Linked DNA regions of Homo sapiens. The protein of the gene in region 1 purifies or fractionates together with the protein of each later gene. This does not show direct contact. Each region holds a gene or a part of one and is shown on either strand. Other genes may lie near its edges. The genes, in order: PRKD3, IDH3G, ALDH5A1 and FUCA1.

Region 1 (8,509 bases):
AAATAAAACAGTTACACTGAAATTCTGTTTTTTCCCCTTCCCCCACCCCCATTTCTGTAAAGAGCATAAAAGAAGAAAATTGGGGTTTAGAAAAGAGAATCAGGAAAAAAAGAAGTAATGAAGATATGGAAGAGGAAATTACAATGCTGGTTATTTCTGTGGCTTTAAAATTAAAAATGCTCTTTCCCTTTTTGTCCCACTGGGCTTTTTTCTACCTTTCACTTTTTCCACCTCACGCATTCTTGCCATACGTTGTTTTTTAATTCCCACTATTTGCCATCTCATCCTGCAGCAATGTGGGCAAGATAATAAGGAGTGAAAAGGAAGAAAGAATGCCATAATAATGCACATAGTAGGTCTGCAGTACTTTTTGTTTGGCAAGTAGGAGAACTGATGGAAGAAAGGAAGCAAGCTGGCCAGCCATGGGTCAGAGCCCTGCTACCAAGTTCCCTTTTCTCAAATTCACCTTTGAGCCTTTTCTTGAGATCCTCTCTGTCCTTATTAGTCCCCACTCCTCTCATCTTATATTTCTGATTCTCTCATTCATCTCACTCCCTGCTACACTGATCATTCATCTTCTATACAACAACCCCAAACCATCTCTATATTTCCCAATCCTTGCCCTCCTCTTCATTCCTGAGGAGTTTCACTCCCTGTCTCACCTGGAAGTCCTGCTCACATCTCTTCCTTCTCTACTCTGGACTCCATCAGACTACTTGCAGGTTGAGGTGAGAGGAAGTTCCTTGGGTCTACTGTCCCGACGTTCACTAAGGGGAAAGGAGTTTCTTTCTCATATCCACTAGGACTGTGGAGAACAAACAGACAAGTATATCCTGGGATCCTAAATTAGGACTCAGTATCTTTTTCCACAGAAACGTTTCCATAAATTGAAGTTAAGTTCCATAGTAGTTTTTACTTTAGTGTTCTATTTCCCACTGTGTAAGTTAAGCAGTTTTTAATTGGTTAAAGTAACCTAATGTCTGTTTGTAATCTTGTCATTATGAGAAAATGCTGTTGGAGTTCCAAATAACTAACCTATGACCTACTTCTGGAGCTCAAATGATGAGAAGTAAATGGACTTGCTAAACTAGAGTTTGAAATCACAATATTAAATAATTTACTTTTATGGTCCAGTGCAACTTTCAGAGAAAAAATGATTCTGTGTACTTTGACATAAGTGAATGTGTGAGCATTCTTAATCTCATCGCAGTACAAATACAACGTGTATTGTAATACTTTTCTTTTTTAAAGCTTTAGCCACAGTAGAAGACTTCCAGATTCGTCCACATACTCTCTATGTACATTCTTACAAAGCTCCTACTTTCTGTGATTACTGTGGTGAGATGCTCTGGGGATTGGTACGTCAAGGACTGAAATGTGAAGGTGTGTGTTCTAAAATTTTTGTGGTCATTTGAAATAAGATTCCACATTTGCATTTTTTATTATCAGTGAAAAAGCAAGATGACGAGCTGTTGACTAGGGTGGTAACGAGGATTTAGAATTGGAGAGATCAGGACTCTCATTTTATCTCTGCCACCTACTTCATATTCTTGGGCAAATTACTAAACCTCTTAAGATTAATTTCTCGTAAAATACATTCTGCCCCACTGGTTTCATAAAGAGTAAACGGTTAAATCAGGTAATAGGGTTAAATATTTAGTACAAAATAATGGCTCCATAAATATTCATGTTGTTTTTTGTTTTTAAAAGTTTTCTTGGCCAGGCACGGTGGCTCACACCTGTAATCCTAGCACTTTGGGATGCCGAGGCTGGTGGATCACCTGAGGTCAGGAGTTTGAGACCAGCCTGGCCAACATGGCGAAACCCTGTCTCTACTAAAGATACAAAAACTTAGCCGGGCGTGGTGGCGGATGCCTGTAATCCCAGCTACTCGGGAGGCTGGGGCAGGAGAATCGCTTGAACCTGCCTGGGTGACGGAGGTTGCAGGGAGCCGAGATTGCACCATTGCACTCCAGCCTGGGTGAAAGAGCGAAACTCTGTCTCAAAAAAAAAAAGTTGTCTCTTACATACAACTAAATTGTCAAATTTGTTCTGAATTAGAATTGCTAGGAGTAGGACACAGGTGCACATTTCTGATGAAGAAACAGTCTTCTAAGGTGGAGGGTCAATCAACTTTTTCTGTAAAGGGACAGAGAGTAAATGTTTTAGACTTTGTTGGCCATATGGTCTCTGTCATGATTTAACTCTGCTATTACAGTATGAAACCAATCATAGACAATATGTAAACGAATAGATATGGTTGTGTTCCAATAAAACTTTATTTAGGGACATTGAAATTTGAGTTTCATAAAATTTTCATGTCACAGGAGGAATTTGGTACAGAGGCCATAGTTTGCTAACTAGTGCTTTAAGGCAGTGGTTCTCAAACTGTATTGTGCATCGTAAAACACACTTTGCTGGGCCTCATCCCCGTAGTTTCTAATTCAGTAGATCTGGGGTGGAGCCTTGTAATTTACATTTCTAACAAATTTCCAGGTGGTTGCCTTAGGGACCACACTTCAAGAACCACTGCCCTAGCTGACTTATCCTTTTTACACATTTCCTTTTCTTCTTGAATTCATTAGCTTCCACTTAGCCTGCTGTCTGGGTTCTTAATTAGGATAGGTATGGCTAACAGAAAATATGTTAAATAAAAGAAGCAGTGGTTTTTATGTATCACACTTAAATAGTAAATTTTTTTTTAAATCTTATATTTTACCTTGTAAAATATGTTTAGGCTGTGGATTAAATTACCATAAACGATGTGCCTTCAAGATTCCAAATAACTGTAGTGGAGTAAGAAAGAGACGTCTGTCAAATGTATCTTTACCAGGACCCGGCCTCTCAGTTCCAAGACCCCTACAGCCTGAATATGTAGCCCTTCCCAGTGAAGAGGTACGTATTCTAAGGTAATAGACATTTTAGTAGTAGTTATTCTCTGTGTTTCTACAGGGTGTATGACATCACTCTAGAACATAATTTATATGCTAAAGAATGGTAATGTTCCTACACTTAAGAAACATAAAATGTAGTAATGGAGACAGGACTTACCGGTAGTAATGAATTGCATTTTGTACACCTTGGGATGGTATTATGGCTTGTACCACTGCTTTAGCCTTCTAGTCAGTATCCTGGCTCCTGGTCTCCATACTTAAATCTTTTTTTTTTTTAATTTTTTTTTTAATTTTTGTTTTTTTGAGATGGAGTCTTGCTCTGTCGCCCAGGCTGGAGTGCAGTGGCACGGTCTCTGCTCACTGCAACCTCCGCCTCCTGGGTTCAAGCAATTCTCCTGCCTCAGCCTCCCAAGTAGCGGGGATTACAGATGCGTGCCACTACACCCAGCTGATTTTTGTATGTTTAGTAGAGATGAGGTTTCACCATGTTGGACAGGCTGGTCTTGAATTCCTGACCTCGTGATCTGCCCGCCTCGGCCTCCCAAAGTTCTGGGATCGCAGGCATGAGGCACTGCTATCTGCAGATCTGTATACAGATGAGACAGTTGAGACACAGAGCAGCTAAGTGACTTGTGTGAAGTCAGAGAGCAAATTAGTAAGAGATAGTGGAATTAAACCCAGATCTCATTATTAATAAATCAGTGATTTTTTTTCCTAATACAGTGTACCTCTCAAGGGCAAAGGCAGTAGATCCAGGAAAAAAGAAATAACTCCCTTGTACATTTCATAGTATTTGAAATGACTTCCATCTGTAGGTTGTAATCTTATTATTTAGTTTTTTCTGTAACTTCTCTGATCTTCTGTAAATTAATGGCAAAATCAAGGCCTTGTCTTGGTACTGTGATCATAATATTTTGCTAAGTTAAGACACCAGAGTAAAAGCTTTTGAAATCCTTTCACAAAAATTCCATCTTCTCTTACTGCTTAGCCCTAGTGTGAGATTTTTAAAGGATAAAAAGAGTGCTGCGGCATAAAGGACTGAAAATGAGGGGTTGGTATAAACCTACAGAAGAGCCTGGAAAAGATTAGTAGGAAAAAGTTAGTGCATCTTATACACTGAACTGCACAGAGAACTTACCTAGGAATGAGGACAGTAGAATAGAGGTATGTCAAGAGCCCCACAAATGATGCTGTTACGCCACCTATGCCCAGTTGAGTATTACTAGATTAGGAAATAGCAGAAGGACAGAGCAAGTGGATAAGGTGTTACATTTTTCATTAGTTTATATTTTATCTTGAACATGAAAGCTCCTTAGGGAAGTATAAGAAGTGCAGTTACATGTCTGAATTGGTTAGATTGTTCAGGGTATTTTTAAACAAGTAGAACTTGTAGCATGGAAGGGCTTTCAGGGTTTACTTTAGTCAGTTCAAGCATAGTCTCAAAAAGAAGAACTTTATTTTCCAACTGTTTGGGTTTTTCTACCAGGTGAACAAAAAGCAAAATTAAAGAAGGCATGAATTAAAAATTTTTGTAACCTGAGGGGTAAGTAGATTTTGGTAACTATGACCCTTTCTATATGAAGGGAATAATCAAACTAAATTATAGATCACCCAGTTCAATGTGGCTCATTTCATTCATTCAACACACATTCACCGATTATTGTATGCCAGGCCCTGTTATATACTAGGGACACAAAATTGAATAAAACATAATCCAAATACTCAAGCACAAAATCCTAATACCCAACTACCATCTAGCTATATGAACAGATTTTGCTGTACCTGCTTGCATCCTCACTGCCAGAACTGATGTCCTGAGATCTTTCAGCTGCCTTCTATAACTAGTCATGTTTGTAATTCAGAGAAGTTGGGTAATTCTACATTAATATGTTCAACCAAGGGAAGGAAAAGAAGTCAGAAAAAAACAAGAGACAGAGAAGTGCAAGGGAGAAGTAAGGGGAGGAGAAAAAAGAAAAAAAAGGGAAGAAAAGGAAAAGAAAAGGACAAAACAACTGGTTGGAGAAGAGCACTATAAAATGCCTCAGATTGATAGTGTAGGCAGGTATTTTTCTTTTTCTTTTTCTTTTTCTTTTTTTTTTTTTTTTTTTTTTTTTTTTTTTTTTTTTGAGATGGAGTTTCGCTCTTGTTGCCCAGGCTGGAGTCCAATGGCATGATCTCGGCTTACCGGAACCTCCACCTCCTGGGTTCAAGCGATTCTTCTGCGTCAGCCTCCCGAGTAGCTGGGATTACAGGCATGCACCCCCACGCCTGGCTAATTTTGTATTTTTAGTAGAGACGGGGTTTCTCCATGTTGGTCAGGCTGGTCTTGAACTCCTGACCTCAGGTGATCCGCCCACCTCGGCCTCCCAAAGTGTTAGGATTACAGGCGTGAGCCACCACGCCTGGCCAGAAGACCAGGCAGAAAACCAACTAGCTAGGTTCTGGAATAGTCTCCAAAATGGGTAAACAAAGTTTACTTCTTCTTAAAGCTGAATTACTGAAACTTGTTTTAATTAGTTTTGTATCTGCCATTGTTTATCATTATTAATTAGACTTAAAATGTATGTATATATTTTAGTATTAAGATAAATTTGAAAATCTAAAATGTGTTTCAAAATATATTCAGATGTCACATTCAGTAATGCAAAATGAGCAGCAATAATACTTTCTTCATTTATTTGTTTTAAAGTTTGTGTATTTGATTTGTAAAGTGCTGAAATGTGCCTGGCAAATAATCATCAGTGAATATATACCTGAGAATTAACATATCTTAGATGTTTTTAAGCATAAATATTAGCAAAAAGAATCTGCATTTTTCTCATTCAAAGATTGGTAAATTAAACATTGCAAAGGAAACTGCTGAGAACAACATTTTTAGAGTTTTTTGGCTTTAGTGTTTGAAATAAATGATTCTTGTGGTTAAGCTCTGCTCCCACTACTCTGTTTTTAATATTGACTTACACTTATGAAAATTACTTATGTTATAGTCACATGTCCACCAGGAACCAAGTAAGAGAATTCCTTCTTGGAGTGGTCGCCCAATCTGGATGGAAAAGATGGTAATGTGCAGAGTGAAAGTTCCACACACATTTGCTGTTCACTCTTACACCCGTCCCACGATATGTCAGTACTGCAAGCGGTTACTGAAAGGCCTCTTTCGCCAAGGAATGCAGTGTAAAGGTAGGATTAGGTGTTTTCCCTAATTAAAATTTATGTCTGTTTTTGTTATTATATATAGGCTTAAAATATTTATATTTCAGAAGCATTAGCCAAAGAAATTATTCTCATAATTGTTATATAAAGGAAAGAGAAATATAAACAAAATATAAATGTGTGTGTAAACTACTATTACTACTATCTGCAGTGTGTGTTAGGTGCCAGGCACTATAGTAGAACAGTAAACCTTTACATGCTCAGTCTTCAAAGCAATTGTATGTGAATTATGCTTTTGTTAATATACTAGTAGTAATAGGAGTTACTATTACTATTAACTACTAATAGTAATAGGAGTACTAGTAATAGGAGTTAGTAGTAATAGGAGTCATATTTCATTTTATAGACATAGATTAGGTAACTTGCTTAAGATCATGTAGCTAGTAAACAGAAAAACTAGAATGTGGATCTCTGAGGATGGCTTCTTCACCTGTATGCTTATCACTTCCCAATACAGAATAGCTAGTAGGCAGCAAAGCTGATACTTGAGGTTTTATGTCTTTTTGATTCCAGAGCCAGACACTAAACAAAATAAAAATAACGCTTTCCTCTTTTCATTAAACATTTATTACACACACATATAAGCATACTGCAAGAGTTTTGGGTTTTTTTTGTTTTTAAGTATGTAGTTTGGAGAATTATACAAAAACTGTCATTCCCGAGAATAATCACCCTGAAATAGGTAGGACGTAATAAAAGCTACTAAAATTATGATAGGGACCCACCCGTATTTGGATACTAACCCAGCACACTTCTATAGTATTCTCAAAACATCTCTTAATGAAACAAGTTTTTAACAGCATACTGGAATAATTATTTGCTTATAGTTATATAATGCTTTTATGCTTTTTAAAGATGATTTTATCTTTTTGTCTCATACCTTCTCAGCAATGCTGTACAGTAGAAACTTTTCACAGTAGAGTGAAAACTAAAATAGAATGTAAATGTCTTAGATTATTAGTCATTGAGCCAGGATAGGATATAAGTAGTCTAACTATAATCTTATATACTTTTTTCATGTAATTAGCAGTTCTTGGTATTGTACTTTTTATATAGTAGAAGTATTTGTGGAATTGAATTATCAAGTGATCTAAATAAAACATTAGGGTTGAGGGTTTTGTAACAAGAAATTCTTGCTTACAAGACAGAGTAAGATAATTGTATATAAGCTTAAGCATATAAGAAAATAAAGCTTTTCTGAGGGGGGAGGGATAGCATTAGGAGATATACCTAATGTTAAATGACGAGTTAATGGGTGCAGCACACCAGCATGGCACATGTATACATATGTAACTAACCTGCACGTTGTGCACATGTACCCTAAAACTTAAAGTGTAATTAAAAAATAATAATAATAATAAAATAAAGCTTTTCTTGACAGTGTATGATAGCACACAAGAACATTAAATGGGGAATAGATTATACATTTGTTGTCAGGTATTTGATAACTATTAGGCATTATAACATGATGAAATTTTATTTCAACAGCTTGCTTTGAATATGAGTTACTACATAAATTAATACTTTAAAATATCAACCTAAAAATGTATTGGCAAGCAGCCACTGAGAAATGTTTTGGGAAAGAACATTAGTAACAGATGTACACATTCTAGCCAACAAATAATCTTAATGAAGGTAGTTAATATTGCTGCTCTGCTAAGCAGAACAGAAACATTCTTAAACCATATGCAGAAAAGTACAGTATTTTGTAGAGGAACTAAAATAAATACAAATGAATTTTTACATAAACCTGTTAATTCTGCTACTGGATTATTCAACTTTTTAGGGTTCTGGAAGAAGAATCTTTTATGCTTATATTGGTTCAGAAAATGGTAGGTTTTATTTCAGTATAGCTAAGCTATTTCATTTATTAAAATAATTATAATTCAGTGATTTCCCTATTTTAATAGTATGAATTAAGATACTTAAAAAATAAAAATATTTTCATTTGTCAGTCTACGAAAGAAAAATGATTTTGTTAAGATAAAACCATTATACTGGATCATTTGAGAAAATACACAATTCTAAGAATTCATTAATCTGTTTGTCTTTATTTTCTATTTTGATGTGTAAAAACTTCAAGGTAGCTTAAAAGCGTATGTAAAGTATAAGAGAGCATAAGCAAATTAATAAAAACATGGGTAAGGACATAGAGAACTAAAACTGCCTGCCTGCCATTCAAACCTACATACTTGCAGGTAGTCCACAAATTCGGCTCTGAATTTTTTTTTTTTTTTTTTTTTGAGACAGAGTCTTGCTCTGTCGCCCAGGCTGGAGTGCAGTGGTGCTGCCACACCCAGCTTATTTTTGTATTTTTTTTGTAGAGACAGGGTTTTGCCACGTTGGCCGGGCTGGTGTCAAACTCCTGGCTTCAAGTGATCCACCTGCCTTGGCCTCCCAAA
Region 2 (5,698 bases), on another chromosome or scaffold:
GGAATTGGCTTGAGCCCATGGGGGCCGAGCTGGGGGCATGTGGGATCCCCGAAGGCCCACCTTCACCCTCTGCCTCCCACAGCCTCCGTCCGCTAAGTATGGCGGGCGGCACACGGTGACCATGATCCCAGGGGATGGCATCGGGCCAGAGCTCATGCTGCATGTCAAGTCCGTCTTCAGGTATGGAGCTCCTGGGTCCCCGCCTTGTCCTCAGCCAGGGGGCCCTGAGGACTTTGTGCCAAGAGGGGCATTGCGCCCAGAAGCACTCGGTGAGGCCATGGCAAGACGACCTGTAAGCCCAGGCCTTGCGTCCCATGGCCTGTGATCCCGCCAGACTGGCCTGGGCTCGGGGAAGGTGGCACCAGTCCTGCCACAGTGTGCATTGTGGAGTTCAAGCGTGTCCCCATCAGTCAGTGAAGGTGGGCCCAGTCCCTTCTCAGTCAGAGCCAGGTCAGGGCAGGTAGCAACAGGAGAGAGGTAGCCTGGGCAGGCTTCCTGGAGGAGGTGCGGGGGGGTCTGGGCCAGCCTCCCTGACCCTGCCGTGCCTCAGGCACGCATGTGTACCAGTGGACTTTGAAGAGGTGCACGTGAGTTCCAATGCTGATGAAGAGGACATTCGCAATGCCATCATGGCCATCCGCCGGAACCGCGTGGCCCTGAAGGGTGAGCTCCAGGGCCAGGGGCCAGGATGGGGCCCTAGGTGTGATTTCTTTCTTGCTTTCTTCCTTCGTTTCTTGCTTACTTGCTCGCTTGCTTGCTTTCTTGCTTGCTTTCCTGCTTTCTTGCTTGCTTGCTTTTTTGCTTTCTTGCTTTCTTTCTTGCGTTCTTTCTGAGATGGGGTCTCGCTCTGTCGCCCAGGCTAGAGTGCAGCGGTGTGATCTCGGCTCAGTGCAACCTCTGCCTTCCAGTTTCAAGCGATTCTCCTGCCTCAGCCTCCCGAGTAGCTGAGATTACAGGCGCCCGCCACCACGCCCAGCTGATTTTTGTATTTTCAGTAGAGAGTGGGTTTCACCATGTTGGCCAGGCTGGTCTTGAACTCCTGACCTCGTGATCTGCCCGCCTCAGCCTCTCAAAGTGTTGGGATTACAGGCGTGAGCCGTCGTGCCCAGCCCCTGTGATTTCTTTTACCTCCCTCTGAGCTGACTCTTGTGGGGCCCCACGGCTCTGATTTCAGGGCTTGTCTGGCTAGAGAGGACCCTCGTGCTTGGAGACTGGGTGGACGCCTCCTCGGGCCTGTTTGCGCTGCGATGCTGGGATTCGAGTGAGAGCAGCTGTGTGTGAGCCTGTCCAGTGACGGGCTCCCTGATGGGTTCCCTCCCACCCCTCCTTCCCTCCTGAGACAGTCCTCTCTGCTGGGGTCAGCTTTGACCCTCAGCATCTTTCTTCACAAACCAGGTATCACAGAGATGCAGTTCCGACCCTCTGCCTGGCTCCTCGGCTGCAGCCAGCCTGGAGGTGGATGGCACAGCCCAGGCAGGGATTCTTGGGGCTTCACTTGAGGTCCTTAAACTACTTCCATTGCTCATTTTGCACACTCAGCCCATTACTTGCACTGTGTGAGGAGCGTGTGAGCAAAGATGAACCCAGGGGGAGCCCCAGGCCCTGGCAGTCAAGTAGAGGGGCCTTTGTGCCAGCCACAGGGGACCCCCGCGCTGTGAGTGGAGCAGTCTGGGTGGGGTACCGCTCACCAGCAGGCGGCCTCTGCTTGGCGCCCTCTGACTGCTGTCTCCAGCGGCCACTGGCCTCTGCTTCCCTTCCTCCAGGTGTCCTGGGTCGTAGGGTAGGGTCCGGCCAATCCGTGGCCTTCTCCAGGCAGCCCCCGCCTGCCTCTGAGTGTGGTGCCTTGATGCGGGGGCTTGGCAGTAACACCGCCAAGGCCACCTTGCTAGCTCCAGCCTGGCCGGCCAACCTGTTAGTAAAGAGTGGTCACTTTCTGTTGCTCCAGAGCCTGGATGGAGAATGGCATGGCTGCCTGGCTGGTTGCCAGCCTTTATTCATTTATTGACTTGTTCATTCCGTCGTTCAGGGGTTATTCATGGAGCACCTGCTGCACCAGGTGCCCTTCGAGATCCCTGAGCGTGTAGCCTCGTGGGGCTTAGGCTGGAAGTTGCATTCTAGCATTCTAGTGTTCAGGAAACATTTTTGCTCCCCAAGTCTTCTGACCCCGGCAGCCTTCAGCTGCCCTGCTGAGGTGGGGCGGGGATGGGCAGTGCCACTAAGCCTGTGTTGTGTTTTGTAGGCAACATCGAAACCAACCATAACCTGCCACCGTCGCACAAATCTCGAAACAACATCCTTCGGTGAGATCCGGGTGTGCGGGCTGGGGGCTTGGTGGGGCTAAGGTGGGGTGAGCCAGTGGAGTCTGGCTCCAGTCAGCCACCTGTCAGGCCTAGCAGCCTCTTTCTCCGTCCCCTCCCAGCACCAGCCTGGACCTCTATGCCAACGTCATCCACTGTAAGAGCCTTCCAGGCGTGGTGACCCGGCACAAGGACATAGACATCCTCATTGTCCGGGAGAACACAGAGGGCGAGTACAGCAGCCTGGAGCATGAGGTGTGCATGGGGGGCCCGAGATGAGCCCCCCCAGCGTCAAGATTAAGGGGAGAGCTTAAGGAACCAGGGACAGGTGTACCCTTAGAGGGCAGGGGCTGTGCCCGAGGGAGAAGCCAGAAATAGGCAGACAGGGTTGCTTCCCACGGTGGCCCGGTCGCGCCAGCTTGTTTGGCCAGTGCTGCTCTTCAGTAGCACATGGGTCTCTTCTCCCCATGCCCTCCTCAGAGTGTGGCGGGAGTGGTGGAGAGCCTGAAGATCATCACCAAGGCCAAGTCCCTGCGCATTGCCGAGTATGCCTTCAAGCTGGCGCAGGAGAGCGGGCGCAAGAAAGTGACGGCCGTGCACAAGGCCAACATCATGTATGTCCCCTGACCTCTCTGCGAGCAGTCCAGAAGCAGCTGCAGTGGCCTGCTTGGGCCTGCTCTGAGGGATTTGTGGTCCAAAAGCCCAGCTACCCACCGAGGTGCCACCCTAGGCGAGTGCCCTGTTGCCCTCGAGGCCTTGCCAGAACCCACACTTAGGGGAGGTGGGGTGGGATTCTGTCCATTTTGCTGGTGAGGGACAGGTTAGAATTCAGACCCCAGCCTCCTGGGGCCCTCTGCACGCCCCGTCCCTCTGGCTGACTGTTGCGATGGCCAAGCTGGTGTCCTATTCCTAACCCCCCACCAGGAAACTGGGCGATGGGCTTTTCCTCCAGTGCTGCAGGGAGGTGGCAGCCCGCTACCCTCAGATCACCTTCGAGAACATGATTGTGGATAACACCACCATGCAGGTATTAGCCTGCCCAGTGCTGTCCCCCTGCCCTGAGTGCCCTGGGCTTCTCTCACCCATGCTTCCGAATCTGCTCCTCAGCCAGCCCCCTCCTTGTCCCGCAGCTGGTGTCCCGGCCCCAGCAGTTTGATGTCATGGTGATGCCCAATCTCTATGGCAACATCGTCAACAATGTCTGCGCGGGACTGGTCGGGGGCCCAGGCCTTGTGGCTGGGGCCAACTATGGCCATGTGTACGCGGTGTTTGAAACAGTGAGTGCCGGTGGCAGTGCCGCGGCTTGCCGCCTTTCTCCTGTTCACAGACTTAGTGAGGCACACTCATCCCATCCGGTTAGCCCGTTCAAAATGCATGATTTAGTAGTTTTTTGGATATCCAGGGTTGTACTGCCGTCACCACCAGGTCATTCCAGAACATTTTCACCACCCCACGAGGAAAGCCTGTCCCCATAAGCTATCTGTCCCCACACCTTCCCCCAACCCCTGGCACCCGCTGGTGGGCTTTTGTCCCTGTGGAGTGGCTTCTTCTGGACGTGTCACAGGAGCAGAGTCACTGCCCGGCATCCTTCTGCCCTCCACCCACTCTCCTTCGTCTTGCCTCCCCAGGCTACGAGGAACACCGGCAAGAGTATCGCCAATAAGAACATCGCCAACCCCACGGCCACCCTGCTGGCCAGCTGCATGATGCTGGACCACCTCAAGTGAGTGGCTCCCAGTGCCCCGCAAGCCCCTGGCCAGCCCTCCGGGCCCCAGGGACTGAAGGCTGGCTGTCCCATCCTCTAGGCTGCACTCCTATGCCACCTCCATCCGTAAGGCTGTCCTGGCATCCATGGACAATGAGAATGTGAGGTTCCCCTCGCACCCTACCCTGCTGCCCCGCCCAGTCTCCCCCTGCAGCCTCCTGTAGCCCGCCTCATGCACTGACCACAGCCCCCAGGGGAGGATGGTACTGGATCTGGCCCCATCTTCTGGCCCTTAGCTGGTGCCACTTCCCTCCTGTGGCAATCCCAGTCCTGCACGTCACAGGAGACAGCGGGGGGTGGCAGGGCCTGGTGTGTGCCGAGCCTGCCTGTGTCCTACAGATGCACACTCCGGACATCGGGGGCCAGGGCACAACATCTGAAGCCATCCAGGACGTCATCCGCCACATCCGCGTCATCAACGGCCGGGCCGTGGAGGCCTAGGCTGGCCCTAGGACCTTCTTGGTTTGCTCCTTGGATTCCCCTTCCCACTCCAGCACCCCAGCCAGCCTGGTACGCAGATCCCAGAATAAAGCACCTTCTCCCTAGACTTGGCGTGGGCCTCCCTCACTCCAGGCACCGATGTTCAGTCCACACTTTATTAAGAAAGGAATACACACACTTTCTCCGAGAGCCCTCACGGGGGTCTCAGGCAGAACACGCTCTGAGAGCCGGGCCTGGCTCCAGCGTCTCTCTGCCCTGTGGTTGTGGAGAACTGGCGCCCAGCAGGGTGGTGGGAGCTGTCCCGCTTTTCCCTTAAGGCACGGAGAGCTGGAGGTGGAGCCACAGCCGGGCCTAGGGGTTGAGCCAGGGGTGCTGGAGGCAGTCAGCGGCACTGGCCCGCTTTTCGGGGATGTACTCCATCATGGGCAGCAGAAAGGCGCTGAACTGTGTGGCCTGCTCTAGGGGCCACTCGTACTTTTCCATGAGTACCTCGTACAGGCCCCAGTGCTTGAGATTGTGGATGTGCCGCAGCTCTCCTGCGGGCAGGCCAGCGGGCGTCAGGCTCTGTCCCTGTCTCTGGACCTGCCTTCTGCTTAGGCCCTGGCTCCTGGGACCCAGTGTTCCCTCTGTTGCAGAATCCAAGGTCCCCGTCCCACCCTCCCTGCAGCCACATGGCCTGAGGCTGCCCGGGCCCTCACCTCTCCGGTTGAAGAACTCCCGGGAATAGCGGCCTGAGAGGGCGAAGGCTGGGGGGATGTCCCCCAGAAGCTCCACTATGTGAGCGATGTGGTCTGTGGGCAGAAAGAGGAGGTTGGGGGCAGGCAGGCCGGGAGGCCGGGAGGCTGAGCCCAGAGCCCTCACCCCTTACCCTCATCACGACTGTAGTCTTCTCCAGAATGCGGCTCGAACAGGTAGTCACCAGTGGCCAGCTCGAAGGCCTGGAAGGGGGAGGAGGTGAGGCTGCTGGCTGGTGGGCTGCTGGCCCTGGGCACAGGGCAGCCCGGGCGGGCGTACCATGCAGGCTGTGCTCCAGATGTCTGCCGGGGGGCCGTATTCGGCGCCGATCAGCACCTCGACGGCCCGGTACTGCCGAGTCTGGATGTCTTCCGTGAAGTGCTTGTGCTGGAAGCAAGGGGAGCCCTGGGGACGGGCTGGGGCCAAGGCTGTCCTGCCCCCACGGACTCCTGCCCCACCC
Region 3 (7,379 bases), on another chromosome or scaffold:
TGAGAGTTTTTACAGCTCATCATTCAAATAACGCACAAAAAACAAAAGCCGCTATGACCGGCGTTGCCTCTCACTTTGAAAGAAAGACTCCGTAATCTTAAACAGATGCAAATCCAATTAGGCGGCCAAGTAGGTGGAGACGAAGCACCTTCCTTTCCCCATCTCTGTCTGTGTAGACTCCACTTACATCTTGTGGTTATTCTGGGTTGTGGAAGGAAAATGTGAATGAAAGTAGTGCTGGATGCAATTACTCCTGAACCCCACCTAGGATTTAACATCCCTCATTGAGCCACTGGGAAGCTATGGTTGAGTAACTAAAGGTCTGGCAAGACCCTGGGCACACAGGGAGCTGCCTAGCATCTGGCCTGGAGTGTACTAGCCACATTCCCAAGGTCCCAAGGAGAAGGAAGAGCTGAAATTCATCTCCTAGTGACAGTGCCCCGGCCCTGTCAAGAATCACATACTCAGCATTTTGACAGTTAATGTCTTCTCTTTATTTGTGTAGTTTTTAGGTGGTTTTATATAACATTTTAATTACTTGTGATTTAGATGTATCCATCCTTTTTCTATTAAGAATACAAATGCTGGGCTGGGCACAGTGGCTCACGCCTGTAATCCCAACACCTTGGGAGGCCAAGGCAGGCAGATCACGACATCAGGAGATCGAGACCATCCTGGCTAACACGGTGAAACCCCGTCTCTACTAAAAATACAAAAAAAATTAGTCGGATGTGGTGGCAGGTGCCTGTAGTCCCAGCTACTCTGGAGGCTGAGGCAGGAGAATGGCGTGAACCCAGGAGGCGGAGCTTGCAGTGAGCAGAGATCACGCCACTGCACTCCAGCCTGGATGACAGAGCGAGACTCCGCCTCAAAAAAAGAATACAAATGCTCCAACATTATTTTTTATAACTCTGGATTACCGATGCTGAGATGTGTGCAGGAATACTTCCAAATAAATTTTTAACATTGTAAGCCAGTAGATTCTTTGGCTGGGTGGCAAATTTTGAGTCTTCTTGCATATTTGGCTCATGGGTTCATAAATTGAGGCCAGAGACTCATTGTATATCCTTGATCAATTTTCTAATTAAAGGAAATAGCTTATTGTTTAGTAAAATGGCCCTTGGTTGTGGGAAGAAAGAGAATTATTTTTAACTGAACGTTTTTGTTGTTTTTTAAATAAAGTAGCCATATGTAACGGGATTTTAAAAATATATACATTTTACAACATGGACTAGAAAAGGACCATTAGATCAGGGGTTGGCAAACTATGGCCCACGAATCAAACCTGGCCTGCCACCTGTTTTTATACAACCTGTGAGCTAAGAATGGTTTATATGTTTTCAAATGATTGGGCAGAAAATCAAAAGAAGAACAATATTTCATGACACCTGAAAATTCTATGAAATTCAGATTTCAGTGTCCATAAACAAAATGTTATTAGAGCATAGCCACACCCATTCATTTATGGTATTGTCTGGGACTGCTTTCTTGGCAGAGTTGAATAGTTGGGACAGGGACAGTATAGCCTGCAAAGCCTAAAAGATTTACTACTTGTCTCCTTAAAGAAAAAGTTTGCCAGCTCCTGATCTAGACCAAGAGGGAGATATTGACCTTACTTGCATTTATCCGGCATTATTTCAACACCTCCTGTGAAGAAAGTACTTTTCTGGCATAGCTACCGTGAGTTCTCAGCAGGAACTTCCCAGCGATGATAATGTACATGAAATTAGCCACGTAACAAGAGTCTATTTGCCTTGAAAAAACAATTATCCTTGAACTTCCTCCAGCTATGCAGGGATTCTCATTAAAGAGCTGATCTGCATCTGTTTATCCATTTTAGTAGCTTTTAAATATGATTTTATGTGAAGTGCCATTTCTTTATTCTACTAAAGAGAGACAGCAGAAATAAAGATCAGAAGCAAATGTGAGCAAATCTGTTTTACTGTTAACTTCAATTATGAACTTGAAATTGTGCCACATGACTTTTTCCTCTAAAAACTGGATCCTAGTGTTTTAATTACCTGTGTGCAGCTATTTTAAATAGCATTTTACTTGAATAATATGTATGTTGTCATTGTTTCATGCTATACTTTGTGGGATAAAACTTGGGAATGAGTGTGGTAAGAAATTTATAAAGTTTTGCTTTTAAAACGTGGACATAACTCATTTTTCTAGTTTTTGACAATTGTGTGTTTTAGTGTCTAGTCTGCAGAGAGCTGTGTGATTAATAAACGTGGAATTAACAGAATTTCCTCTCCCTGTATTAAGGTGTCTGGTTGTGCTTTTTTCCCCCTACTTGGTGATCTTTTGAGTTTTTATTGGATGATATTAGACCAGTTTGCATTTGTGTAAATAGCACTCCCTCCCCCAGAGAGCCGTAATCAGTGAGTGCCTTGGGGAAGGAGCCAGCATGTGAAATGATGTGCCCTAAAACCCAGAGAAGGGCCTGTCCATGGTGTGCGCTTATAGAATGTTTGCTAAGCTGAACTGAGAATTTACCTGGTTTGCAGAGGTGGCGGTCACAGAAAGGTGTATAGGCCAGCCGTCACAGATTGGCCTATCTCTCTCTCCTACACGCCCCACTGTTATGACTTCCTGGGCTCAAACAAGCCTCTCACCTCTGCCTCCTGAGTAGCTGGGACCACAGGCACCTGCTACCACACTCAGTTAATTTTTCTTTCATTTTTTGAACAGTCAGGGTCTCACTGTGTTGCCCAGACTGGTCTCAAACTCCTGGGTTCAAGCCACCCTCCCGCCTCAGCCTCCCAAAGTGCTGGGATTATGGGAGTGCACCATTGTAGCCAGCCCTCACCATAATTTAGAACACAGACAGCACTGCTGCCCAGTGGTTAGTGGACATTTTTGCAAATGTCGTCTCACATTTTACAATCACGTATTGCTCGACAACAGAGATATATTCTGAGAAATGCGTCATTAGGCAGTTTCGTCCTTGTACGAACACTGTAGAGTACTTACACAAACCTGGATGGTACAGCCTCCTACACAGCTAGGCTATACGGTCTAGCCTATTGCTCCTAGGGCTACAAACCTGCACAGCATGCTACTGTACTAAATACTGTAGGCAGTTGTAAGACAATGGCAAGTATTTATGTATATAAACATAGAAAAGGTACAGTAAAAATCAAGTATAAAAGATTTAAAAATTACACTTGTAAAAGGCACTTACCGTGAATGGAGCTTGCAGAACTGGAAGTTGCTCTGGGTGAGTCAGTGAGTGACAGTGAATGTGAAGGCCTAAGGTATGACTGCACACTACTCTAGACTTTACAAACACTCTACACTTAGGCTACACTACATTTATTAAATAATATTTTTCTTTCTTCAATAATAAATTACCCTTAGCTTACTGTAACTTTTTACTTTATAAATTTTTAAAATTTTTTAACTTTTTGACTCTTTTGTGATCACACTTAGCACTTAAAGCACAAACTAATTGCACAACTGTATAAAAATATATTCTTTTTTTATATCCTTGTTCCACAAGCTTTTTTATATTTTAAATTTTTTTAAACTTTTTTGTTAAAAACTAAGACACAATTACACACATTAGCCTAGGCCTACAAAGGGTCAGATTCATGGATATTTCTATCTCCCACCTCCTCATCTTGCCCCGCTGGAAGGTCTTCAGGGGCAATAACACGCAGGGACAGCTGGGCCCAGTGGCTCACGCCTGTAATCCTAGCACTTCAGGAGTCCAGGGCAGGCGGATCGCTTGAGCCCAGGAATTTAAGACCAGCCTGGGCAACACGGCGAAACCCTGTCTCTACAAAAAATACAAAAATTAGCCAGGTGTGGTGGCACGTGCCTGTCGTCCCAGCTACTCAGGAGGCTGAGGCAGGAGGATCGCTTGAACCCGGGAAGTCAAGGCTGCAGTGAGCCGTGACCGCACCACTGTACTCCAGCCTGGGTGACAAGGTGAGACCCTGACTCAAAAAAGAAAAAAACGTGGAGCTAGGATAACAAGACCTACCTGAGGTTCTTAGGAGATGTCATGCATCAGAAATATGTCCATGGTGGTTTGCTTGCTTTCCTTTTTCATCATAGATTTGCTTGTAAGCAGACAGTGCATAAAGAACATTCCTCTCTGTTAATGAAACCCTTTTGGTGTTGAGGGGCCCATGTTTTCAGAATTTTTAAGGCGCTTACTGAGGTCTGCAAAAACTTCTCAGCTCTTCACTGTGAATTTTCATGGGGATTCTTTTTCTTCTGCAGTTTTTTCTTCCTTGCCTCTTCTTGAGGTATGTGTTCCTGTTCCAGTTCCAACAACTCCTCATTAGTCAGTTCCTCAGGAACCACCTGTAGGAGCTCCTCAATGTCTTCTTCTTCCACCCCCAGGTTAAAATTGTTTGCCATCTCAACCACAGCCTTGTTGGTTTTTGCAACCTCCTTGTCCTTGGCAAATCCTTTGAAATCACGGATGAACCTCTTGAGTGTCTTCTTCCAGATGTCATTTATACGTTCCTTGGTAACATCACCCCAAGCCCAAGCAAGGGTCCTGATGGAGTCGTAGATGTAATCCTTTCAGAATTGCATCAGCGTCTTCTCCGTGTCTTCCTTTGTTGCAGTAATAACCTGAGCAAAGCTGCTCCTCCTCAGGCAGTGGGCCTTAAAAGCTGCTGTAACTCCTTTACCCATTGGTTGGTAATCCTTAATCTCTTGTTTCAAGATCAGTCACTTGATGTGGCCTCTTACTGGCAACAATAGCCGTGGATTTTCTATGACAAAGGGACCGTGATGAACAAAGCAACACGAGATTAATTGAAGCACAAGAGAAAATAATGCAATCAAGAGGCACAGTAAACAAGACACGTTTATACTGCTGGTATAACCCAGTATTTCTTTTGTTTTGTTTTGTTTTGTTTTTGAGACAGGGTCTCACTCTGTAATTTAGGCTGGAGTGCACCGGCACCATCACAGCTCACTGCAGCCTTGACCTCCTGGGCTCAAGAGATCCTCCTACCCCAGCCTCCTGAGTAGCTGAGACTACAGGCATTCGCCACCACACCCAGCTAACTTTTAAACATGTTTTTTATAGAGATGGAGTCTCACCATGTTGTCCAGGCTGGTCTCAAACTCCTGGGCTCAAGCAATCCTCCAGCCTCAGCCTCCCAAAGTGCTGGGGTTACAGGAGTGGGCTACTGCACCCAGCCACATACTGTTTTACAATAAACTGTTTTTAATAAGTAGAAGGAGTACACTGTAAAATAACAATGAAAAGTACAGTATAATAAATACGTAAACCAGTAGCATAGTCACTTATTATATACTGTACATAATTGTATGTGCTATACTCTTATACAACTGAGAATGCAGGTTTGTTTACACCAGCATCACCACAAACATGATTAATGCATTGGGCTGCATTGGACTTTATGATGGCTACGACATCACTAGGTGACAGGAACTTTTCAGCTCCATTATCTCATGGGTCCATAAATCATATATGCAGTCCATCACTGACAGAAATTTCACTATGCCAGGCATGACCGTATAAGCCTATGTGCTCTCTTCCTGCTGCAATAAAGTCTCAGTCCTGCAACTCTGGGTTCATCATCTTTAGGAGAATGGAGGTGATAATACTCTCCATGTAGGCTTCAAATAAAGGAAGCTTTGCTGCTTGCTAATCTCAACTCAACAAGAGAGGCTCTAGGGACCAATTAGTTGGAGAAATGGTGACTTTGTTTCTTTTTTTTTTTTTCCTTTCTTAACTTTGTTCCTGATTTTAATGGAAATGCTTATTTTACTGTTGATATGTGGATCTGGCCTTTCCTTCTCAACATCTTTAAACTTTTAATTTTGAAATAATTATAAATTCATAGGAAGTTGCAAAGATAATGCAGAGTCCCGTGTACCCTTCACCCAGTGGTTCGCTTATTACCTATGTAATACAATTATCAAAACCAGGAAACTGATACCAGTGCAAAACTGTTAATCCAGGCCTTATTCCAATTTCACTCGTTTTTATGTGCACTCATTTGTATGTGAGTGTTTGTACACCTCTACCTAATTTGATCACATCAATAGTTAGATTTGTGTAGGCAGCACCTGAATCAAGATACAGAACTGTTTCATCTCTACCTAGGAAATCCCTGGCAGTACCTCTTCATAAATGACTTTGAAAGTAACTTGGCAAGATTGGTAGCTTTTTTAAACTTTCCTTTCACTATTATATACATGCAAAAAAAAAGGATACATAATTGAATAAGTGAATCGCTCAATGAATTCTCAGAAGACCGAGATCAAGGTGTCGGCAGGTTTGGTTTCTCCTGACGCCTCTCATCTTGGCTTGTAGATGGCCGCCTTCTTGCCATGTCCTCCCATGATCTTTCCTCTGTGCCTGCGTGCCCCAGATGTCTCTCTGCAGGTCCTAATCTCTTCTTCTAATAAGAAAACCAGTCGATTGGATTAGGACCCATCTTAATGGCCTCATTTTACTCATTTTAACTTAATTAATCACATCTCTTTAAAGGCTCTATCTCCAAATACATTTCAGGTACTGGGGGTTAGAGCTTCAACCTATGAATTTTGACATAACACGATTAATTTAGTCAGCTGGGCGCAGTGGCTCACGCCAGTAATCCCAGCACTTTGGTAGGCCGAGGCTGGTGGATCATTTGAGGTCAGCAGTTTGAGACCGGCCTGGCCAACATGGCGAAACTCCATTTCTACTAAAAATACAAAAATTAGCCCGTCATGGTGGTGGGCGCCTGTAATCCTAGCTACCTGGGAGGCTGAGGCAGGAGAATCGCTTGAACTGGGGAGGAAGAGGTTGCAGTGAGCCAAGATCATGCCACTGCACTCCAGCCTGGGTGACAGAGTGAGACTCCATCTCAAAAATAATAATTTAGCCCACAACACTGAAGGAATATTTTTTTAAATGCCTTTATTTTCTGGCTGGTCATGGTGGCCCATGCCTGTAGTCCCAGTACTTTGGGAGGCTGAGGCGGGCGGGTCATTTGAGGCCAGGAGTTCGAGACTAGCCTTGCCAACATGGCGAAACTCCGTCGCTACTAAAAATATAAAAAGTAGCTGAGTGTGGTAACACACATCTGTAATCCCAGCTACTCAGGAGGCTGAGGCACAAGAATCACTTGAACTGCCAGGAGGCAGAGGTTGTAGTAAGCGAGATTGCACCACTGCGCTCCAGCCTGAGCAACAGAGCAAGACTGTCTGAAAAAAAATAAAATAAAAATTCCTTTAGTTTCAGTAATGGAAAGTCATCCTTGTTGAAATTATAAAGATTTTGTTCCTTTACTTAGCCTAGTATTTGCTCTCTCAGTAAATACACAACTCTTACAGGATTGAAGATGATCCAGGAGCCACGTAATTAGTTTAACTACAATACCCCATTCCCATTC
Region 4 (8,509 bases), on another chromosome or scaffold:
CAGCAAGAAGCCTTTCTTGGAAGATGGGAACAATCAGTCCATCTTTAGTTGGTCCAATGTTCAGAAGATAGTTGCCTCCCAAACTTACTGTCTGAACCAGTTCCTGGAGAGAACAGAAACAATGAAAGTCTAGCTATGAATGCCAAGCCTGGCATCATGCTTAAAATAGACAGAGAAGAAAAAGAATCTAGGGCACACTCTGTTTTTTAAATATCCTCTGCTGTTTTAATTTTTTTTTTTTTCTTTTTGAGCTGGAGTTTCACTCTTGTCGCCCAGGCTAGAGTGCAATGGCGTGATCTTGGCTCAACTGCATCTCGGCTCACTGCAACCTCCACCTCCCTGTTCAAGCGATTCTCCTGCCTCAGTCTCCTGAGTAGCTGGAATTACAGGCATGCGCCACCACATCCAGCTAATATCATTCTATTTTTAGTAGAGACAGGGTTTCACCACGTTGGCCAGGCCAGTCTCAAAACTCCTGACCTCAGGTGATCTGCCTGCCTTGGCCTCCCGAAGTGCTGGGATCACAAGCATGAGTCACCGCACCTGAGCTAAAAATTCTCTCTCTATATATATTTTTGTCACTATAAAAGCAGGTTAGGCTCATGTGAGTAAATGAAAAATCAGGCTATATTATATTAACTTGAATTTCAGGGAGTGGCCATGGAGCACTTCCTGTGACACTGTACTTCTCATGGTGCTGAGTGCAGTGGGAAGGGTCATGCCCCAGAAACATGAGGTGTGGGCAGGGAAGCTGAGAATTTCAGGACATTCCTTACGCATTGGGCTATATAAATGAACATGCTGCCCCTTTGGGAAAACTGCTATAAAGAGATACGTTCTTTTTTTTTTTTTTTTTTTTTTTTTGAGACGGACTCTTGCTCTGTCTCCCAGGCTGGAGTGCAGTGGCACAATCTCGGCTCACTGCAACCTCCGCCTCCTGGGTTCAAGTGATTCTCCTGCCTCAGGCTCCCGAGTAGCTGGGACTACAGGTGCGCACCACCATGCCCAGTTAATTTTTGTATTTTTAGTAGAGATGGGGTTTCACTATGTTGGCCAGGCTGGTCTTGAACTCCTGACTTTGTGATCCACCTATCTCAGCCTCCCAAAGTGCTGGTATTACAGGTGTGAGCCACCGTGCTCAGCCAAGAGATACATTCTTTAAGACTTCTGGAGTGGGATTTGGGTGTGTGTGTTTTTACTGTGACCTTGAACAGGTATTATACATATCCAGGCAGCTCAGAAAAACTAAGGTTATATAGAGAAAATTTTAAATTCATTACAGAATTTGAAGAATTCAGACAGGCATGGTGGATCACACCTGTAATCCCAGCACTTTGGGAAGCCAGGACAGGTGGATTACCTGAGGTCAGGAGTTTGAGACCAGCCTGGCCAACGTGGTGAAGGCCCTGTCTCTACTAAAAATACAAAAATTAGCTGGGCACAGTGGTAGGCACCTGTAGTCCCAGCTATGCGGGAGGCTGAGGCAAGAGAATCACTTGAACCCGGGAGGTGGAGGTTGCAGCAAGCTGAGATCGTGCCATTGCACTCCAGCCTGGGCAACAAGAGCGAAATTCCATCTCAAAAAAAAAAAAAAAAGAATTAAAGAATTCATTATAAGAATTCATTACAGTACTCCAAGTGACACCACACCATTAACTTTTGATGTCTTCTTCTAGTCTTTTTCCTATGTAGTTAATTTTATATAGTTGTAATAATATGTAACTTATTTTATTTATTTATTATTATTTAAAAAAAATTTTTGTTTCAGACGGAGTCTAGCTCTGTCACCCAGGCTGGAGTGCAGTGGCGCAATCTCAGCTCACTGCAACCTCTGCCTCCTGGGTTCAAGCAATTCTCCTGCCTCAGCCTCCTGAGTAGCTGGGATTATAGGCATGTGCCACCACGCCCAGCTAATTTTTTTTGTATTTTTTAGTAGAGACGGGGTTTCACCACATTGGCCAGGATGGTCTCGAATTCCTGACTTTGTGATCCACCCTCCTTGGCCTCCCAAAGTGCTGGGATTACAGGTGTCAGCCACCGTGCCTGGCCACTTATTTTTATTTTTTAAAATAGAGATGGGGTCTCACTATGTTGTTTAGGCTGGTCTTAAACTCCTGCCCTCAAGCAATCCTCTTGTCTTGGTCTCCCAAAGTGTTGGAGTTACAAGTGTGAGCCACCACCATGCCCAGCCAATATGTAACTTTATTAAAAATAATAATAATAATAGAGATGGGGTCTTTCTATTTTGGCCAGGCTGGTCTTGAACTCCTGGCCTCAAAGGATCCTCCCACCTTGGCCTCCTAAAGTGTTGGCATTACAGGTATGAGCCACTGTGCCCAGCCAATATGTAACTGTTTTTTCATTCAGTGCTCTAAACATTAACCCATATTAAATTTGTCAACATTTTTATGGTTACCAGGAGTTCGAGACAAGCCTGGCCAACATGAAGAAACCCTGTCTCTACTAAAAACACAAAAATAAGCTGGGCATGGTGGCACGTGCCTGTATTCCCAGCTATTCGGGAGGCTGAGGCAGGAGAATTGCTTGAACCCGGGAGACGGCGGTTGCAGCAGACCGAGATCGCACCACTGCACTCTAGCCTGGGTGACAGAGTGAAGTTCGTTCATAAATAAATAAATAAATATACACATACATACATACATACATACATACATACATACATACATACATACAAATAATCCTGGGAAGGACCTCTGCACAACTTTCTTGTGTAACTCTAATTATTTCCTTAGGACAGGTTTCTGTTAGTCTATTCAATGTCCTTAAAAGGGTTCTATTGACCTGCACTTCTATCCAGAGTACTTCCATCACTCTTACATAAAAAAGCTGGTTTTGCAGCCATAAAAGAGAATGTGTCCTTTGCAGGGACATGGATGAAGCTGGACATCACTCTTACATAAAAAAGCTGGTTTTGCAGCCATAAAAAAGAATGAGTTCATGTCCTTTGCAGGGACATGGATGAAGCTGGAAACCATCATTCTTAGCAAACTAACACAGGAACAGAAAACCAAACACCACATGTTCTCACTCATAAGTGGGAGTTGAACAATGAGAACACATGGGACACAGGAAGAGGAACATCACACACCAGGGCTTGTTGGAATGTGGGGGTGAGGGGAGGGAGAGCATTAGGACAAATACCTAATGCATGTGGGGCTTAAAACCTAGATATCGGGTTGATAGTTTGCAACAAACCATCATGGCACATGTATACCTATGAAACAAACCTGCACACTCTGCACTTGTATCCCAGAATTTAAAGTAAAATTTAAAAAAAGAGGAAAAAAATAATTAAAATCAATCATATAGTATGTTAGAAGGTAATAATAATAATAATAATAATAAAAAGTGGTTTGAGATCCATAGTTAAAAAATAGTGAACTCAGGCCAGCTGCCATGGCTCATGCCTGTAATCCAGTGCTTTGGGAGGCTGAGGCTAGATCTCTTGAGGCCAGGAGTTTGAGACCAGCCTGGGCAACATAGCAAGACCCTGTCTCTACAAAAAATTTAAAAATTAGCTGGTTGTAGAGGTGCACACCTGTAGTTCTAGCTACTCAGGAGGCTGAGGTGGGAGGACCACTTGAGCCCCAGGAGTTTGAGGTTACAGTGAGGTATGATCGTGCCACTGCGCTATTGCCTGCATGACAGAGCAAGACCCCATTTCATTAAAAAAAACAAAAAACTCCCCTCTCCCTCTCCCTCTCCCCCCTCTCCCTCTCCCCACGGTCTCCCTCTCCCTCTCTTTCCACGGTCTCCCACTGATGCCGAGCCGAAGCTGGACTGTACTGCTGCCACCTCGGGTCACTGCAGCCTCCCTGCCTGATTCTCCTGCCTCAGCCTGCCGAGTGCCTGCGATTGCAGGTGCGCGCCACCACGCCTGACTGGTTTTCGTATTTTTTTGGTGGAGACGGGGTTTCGCTGTGTTGGCCGGGCTGGTCTCCAGCTCCTAACTGCGAGTGATCCGCCAGCCTCGGCCTCCAGAGGTGCCGGGATTGCAGATGGAGTCTGGTTCACTCAGTGCTCAATGGTGCCCAGGCTGGAGTGCAGTGGCGTGATCTCCGCTCGCTACAACCTCCACCTCCCAGCCGCCTGCCTTGGCCTCCCAAAGTGCCGAGATTGCAGCCTCTGCCCGGCCGCCACCCCGTCTGGGAAGTGAGGAGCGTCTCTGCCTGGCCGCCCATCGTCTGGGACGTGAGGAGCCCCTCTGCCTGGCTACCCAGTCTGGAAAATGAGGAGCGTCTCTGCCCGGCCGCCATCCCATCTAGGAAGTGAGGAGCACCTCTTCCCGGCCGCCATCCCATCTAGGAAGTGAGGAGCGTCTCTGCCCGGCCGCCCATCGTCTGAGATGTGGGGAGCGCCTCTGCCCCGCCGCCCCGTCTGGGATGTGAGGAGCGCCTCTGCCCGGCCGCGACCCCGTCTGGGAGGTGAGGAGCGTCTCTGCCCAGCCGCCCCATCTGAGAAGTGAGGAAACCCTCCGCCTGGCAACCGCCCCATATGAGAAGTGAGGAGCCTCTCCGCCCGGCAGCCACCCCGTCTGGTAAGTGAGGAGCGTCTCTGCCCGGCAGCCACCCCATCCGGGAGGGAGGTGGGGGTCAGCCCCCGCCCGGCCAGCCGCCCCGTCCGGGAGGGAGGTGGGGGGGTCAGCCCCCCGCCTGGCCAGCCGCCCCGTCCGGGAGGGAGGTGGGGGGGTCAGCCCCCCGCCCAGCCAGCCGCCCGGTCCGGGAGGTGAGGGGCGCCTCTGCCCGGCCGCCCCTACTGGGAAGTGAGGAGCCCCTCTGCCCAGCCACCACCCCGTCTGGGAGGTGTACCGAACAGCTCATTGAGAACGGGCCATGATGACAATGGCGGTTTTGTGGAATAGAAAGGGGGGAAAGGCGGGGAAAGGATTGAGAAATCGGATGGTTGCCGTGTCTGTGTAGAAAGAGGTAGACACGGGAGACTTTTCATTTTGTTCTGTACTAAGAAAAATTCTTCTGCCTTGTGATCCTGTTGATCGGTGACCCTACCCACAACCCTGTGCTCTCTGAAACGTGTGCTGTGTCCACTCAGGGTTAAATGGATTAAGGGCGGTGCAAGATGTGCTTTGTTAAACAGATGCTTGAAGGCAGCATGCTCGTTAAGAGTCATCACCACTCCCTAATCTCAAGTACCCAGGGACACAAACACTGCGGAAGGCCGCAGGGTCCTCTGCATAGGAAAACCAGAGACCTTTGTTCACTTGTTTATCTGCTGACCCTCCCTCCACTATTGTCCTATGACCCTGCCAAATCCCCCTCTGTGAGAAACACCCAAGAATGATCAATAAAGAATAAATAAATAAATAAATAAATAAATAAAAAACTGGACACCCTACTACCCACACCCACTTTAAGATATAGATTACAACCAACACCGTTAAAGCCCTTTTGCATGCCCTTCTCCATCCCAGCCCCCTCCTAAATTTTGTTTATAATGATCTCGCTTTTCTTCATAATTTTACCTCCAAAATATGCATCTGTAAACAATATGCTGTTTTTGCAAGCTTTTGAACATTATATAAAATAAATCATACTGCATGTTAAAAAAAAAAAAACAAAAACAAAAAACTCAAAGGTGCTCTTACCGAAATGATTTCAGATTCTTCTGTAACATCAGACAATGCCATGTCACGACGATAGCCCCAGGAAAACTTGTCAATGCTGGTGCACATCTCCCACTTGTGATCTGGCAAGCTCTGTGGCTTGAATTTATCTTCACAGTTATAGTATCCTCCATGGTGACAGGAACAGTTCTGACCCCATCGGTCATTTACTACCACCTCATCCTAAGGAGGGAAAGAATATTTGGTCATGAGGAGTAAAACCACTTGACTTCTTTATGTAATACACTTTGGTAAGGCTCTATTTGGAAGCAAGAAACTTAGTCTAGAGCAGTGGCTGTCAACTGGGGGCAATTTTGCTCTGGAGGGGACATTTGGTAAAGTCTAGAGACATTTTTGATTGTCACAACGGGGGTGGTATGCCATCTAGTGGGTAGAGACCAGGGATGTTACTAAACGTCCTACAATGCACAGGACAGCCCCCACAGCAAAGAAATATTCAGCCCTAAATGTCAACAGTACTGAGGTAGAGAAACCCTGCTGCAGAGATACATGTCAGGGCTGGGAGAGCTTGCTTTAAAGATCATCTGGTAAATCACTTTTTCTATAAGAGGAGAAATGAACAGGAGAGGACCTGCCTGGGGCCATGCCCCTAGGCAGTTTCAAAAGCTGGAACTACAAATCAGGTATCTGAACCCATGGCAGGCTGTTTTCCAACTATATAATCCCAGCCTTACTTACGTAAAAAAAAAGTCTTAAGACAATCCCACTCAAAAAAAAAAAAAATAGCAAATTCTTTTTCTTACTTCAAGGTTTAGCTGAAGAATGATAAATCATACATGGAATATCTTAATGTAAATGTTAAATGCAGCATATTTTATAACAGAGTGGCCAATACAAGATAAAAACTGAAACCATTTGGGAGGCCAAGGCAGGCAGATCATGAGGTCAGGAGATAGAGACCAACCTGGCTAACACGGTGAAATCCCGTCTCTACCAAAAATACAAAAAATTAGCTGGGCATGGTGGCACATGCCTGTAGTCCCAGCTATTTGGGAGGCTGAGGCAGGAGAATCGCTTGAACCTGGGAGGCGGAGGTAGCAGTGAGCCGAGATCGTGCCACTGCACTCCAGCCTAGGCAACAGCAGAGCGAGACTCCGTCTCAAAAACAAAAACAAAAACAAAACTGAAACCATGTTCAATTCATCACGGCAAAAAGAGATTTATTAAAAGTTTAAAATTCCCATTTCTTGCCTGTTTTAGAGTCATTCACATTGGTATGAAGTTTCTCCTATGGAAGCTAGTTAAGTGCCAAAGAGAAATAGAAGAATAGTCATTATTTGTAACTAGTTCAATCCAATGTCTGGTACTTGATTATCAATGTCTGGGCATCATGGGTCACAGAATTGAAAAGGACAACTCAAGATCAATTCAAGAACAGGTATGTAAAAGCCATTTCAGAGAAAAATGGGGTATTAACAATCCTAATTCTTCATTCAACACCTACCCATCCGCTTATTCAATAAGTATTTACTCAACAACTACCATGGGGCTCACACTGTGGGCAGATACTGGGTCTCCAAGGTGAATAAAACAGAGGTCTTGCCCTCAACCATCCAGCAGAGACTAGCAGAGGAGACAGATATGTGGACAATTACAATATGACATCATATCAGAGTTTATGCCTGGTTACAAGATTATCAAGGGCTTTGAGGTTCATAGCTGGCTCCACCACCTAGTAGTCAAGGGGTCTTAGGCAGGTAACTTTACCTTTTAAGTTAGTTACTTATCTATAAAAACAAACAAACAAAACCAACCAAACAAACAAAATCCAAAGGCAAATATCACCCACCTCACAGGGGTTTGAGAGGGAGGGATAAAAGTGACAGTGTGCCCAGACTCTGGCTCAGAGTGAATAAAGGTGTCTCCTTGCCACACCTCCTCTTTCTCAGAGTCCTCAGGTGATGTGAACGCTCCCTGTACACTCAGCCTGTCAAGGACAGACACAACCATGCACTCCTTCATCCCACAGAAGCTAATGCAGTACCCTCCACTTTGGCATTCGAACCAGTGTCTATGGATTGTGGAGACCTCAGGACATACTTCTACTATCATACTGGTCACCCTACAATGTACTTTGTTTGTATGTCTGTCTTTCTCTTCAGACTGTAGTTCCCTAAGAGCAGAAACCATTCATTCAGCATTTCCAAGGCTTAGCATGCGGCATGCTACGGCACCGGCTCTCAATAAATCCTGGTAGAAATGAAGGAGAATCTACAGTCCCCATATGTCTGCGAAGCTACTGTGAAGATGGGTTGAGGCACACCCACACAGAAGGTCCTGGTTGCTTAGGAATTATTGTTTAAGAGAGGCCGGCCGGGAGCGGTGGCTCACGCCTGTAATCCCAGCACTTTGGGAGGCTGAGGCGGGTGGATCACAAGGTCAAGAGTTTCAAGACCAGTCTGGCCAACATGGTGAAACCCCGTCTCTACTAAAAATACAAAAAATTAGCCAGGTGTGATGGTGTGCGCCTGTACTCCCAGCTACTCGGGAGGCTGAGGCAGGAGAATTGTGTGAACCCAGGAGGCGGAGGTTGCAGTGAGCCGAGATCGTGCCATTGTACTCCAGCCTGGGCGACAGTGCGAGACTCCCTCTCAAAAAAAAAAGAAAAGAAAAAAAAAAGCCAAAAAAGTTCAGGCTGTCTAGCTAGTCATGCTTTTTAAATGACACTGGGGTTGATATTTTCTTCCCTTTCCCAATCCTGCATCTTTGGCTAGTCATTTTTCCTTCTGTGATACTCCTTAAGCACAAACACTAGACTGTAACCTCACGTAGCAAGCGACCTAGCTCGAGGGGTATACACCCTGAACATATATACATAGACGCCATTTCAGAGACAAATGGGGTATT

What was found.
Region 2: the proteins of PRKD3 (region 1) and IDH3G purify together in Homo sapiens (affinity purification with mass spectrometry, with the first as the bait; one large-scale study listed by BioGRID). This does not show direct contact.
Region 3: the proteins of PRKD3 (region 1) and ALDH5A1 purify together in Homo sapiens (affinity purification with mass spectrometry; one large-scale study listed by BioGRID and IntAct). This does not show direct contact.
Region 4: the proteins of PRKD3 (region 1) and FUCA1 purify together in Homo sapiens (affinity purification with mass spectrometry; one large-scale study listed by BioGRID and IntAct). This does not show direct contact.

Annotation. Positions count from the first base shown.
Region 1 is NC_000002.12:37,283,742-37,292,250, reverse strand, and holds part of PRKD3 (serine/threonine-protein kinase D3), read left to right. Parts: intron 1-1,251; coding exon 1,252-1,383; intron 1,384-2,737; coding exon 2,738-2,895; intron 2,896-5,881; coding exon 5,882-6,074; intron 6,075-8,509. UniProt on the Homo sapiens protein: Converts transient diacylglycerol (DAG) signals into prolonged physiological effects, downstream of PKC. Involved in resistance to oxidative stress.
Region 2 is NC_000023.11:153,784,677-153,790,374, reverse strand, and holds the end of IDH3G (isocitrate dehydrogenase [NAD] subunit gamma, mitochondrial isoform a precursor), read left to right. Parts: intron 1-82; coding exon 83-180; intron 181-550; coding exon 551-663; intron 664-2,239; coding exon 2,240-2,300; intron 2,301-2,419; coding exon 2,420-2,552; intron 2,553-2,777; coding exon 2,778-2,911; intron 2,912-3,221; coding exon 3,222-3,324; intron 3,325-3,427; coding exon 3,428-3,574; intron 3,575-3,925; coding exon 3,926-4,020; intron 4,021-4,102; coding exon 4,103-4,163; coding exon of another isoform or gene 4,164-4,226; exon of another isoform or gene 4,227-4,401; coding exon 4,402-4,503; 3' UTR 4,504-4,607; downstream 4,608-5,698. Other genes in the region: SRPK3 (SRSF protein kinase 3), read right to left, coding at 4,855-5,039, 5,202-5,294, 5,372-5,441, 5,518-5,625. UniProt on the Homo sapiens protein: Regulatory subunit which plays a role in the allosteric regulation of the enzyme catalyzing the decarboxylation of isocitrate (ICT) into alpha-ketoglutarate.
Region 3 is NC_000006.12:24,534,945-24,542,323, forward strand, and holds the end of ALDH5A1 (succinate-semialdehyde dehydrogenase, mitochondrial isoform 2 precursor), read left to right. Parts: 3' UTR 1-2,263; downstream 2,264-7,379. UniProt on the Homo sapiens protein: Catalyzes one step in the degradation of the inhibitory neurotransmitter gamma-aminobutyric acid (GABA).
Region 4 is NC_000001.11:23,848,737-23,857,245, forward strand, and holds part of FUCA1 (tissue alpha-L-fucosidase precursor), read right to left. Parts: intron 5,825-8,509; coding exon 5,624-5,824; intron 104-5,623; coding exon 1-103. UniProt on the Homo sapiens protein: Alpha-L-fucosidase is responsible for hydrolyzing the alpha-1,6-linked fucose joined to the reducing-end N-acetylglucosamine of the carbohydrate moieties of glycoproteins.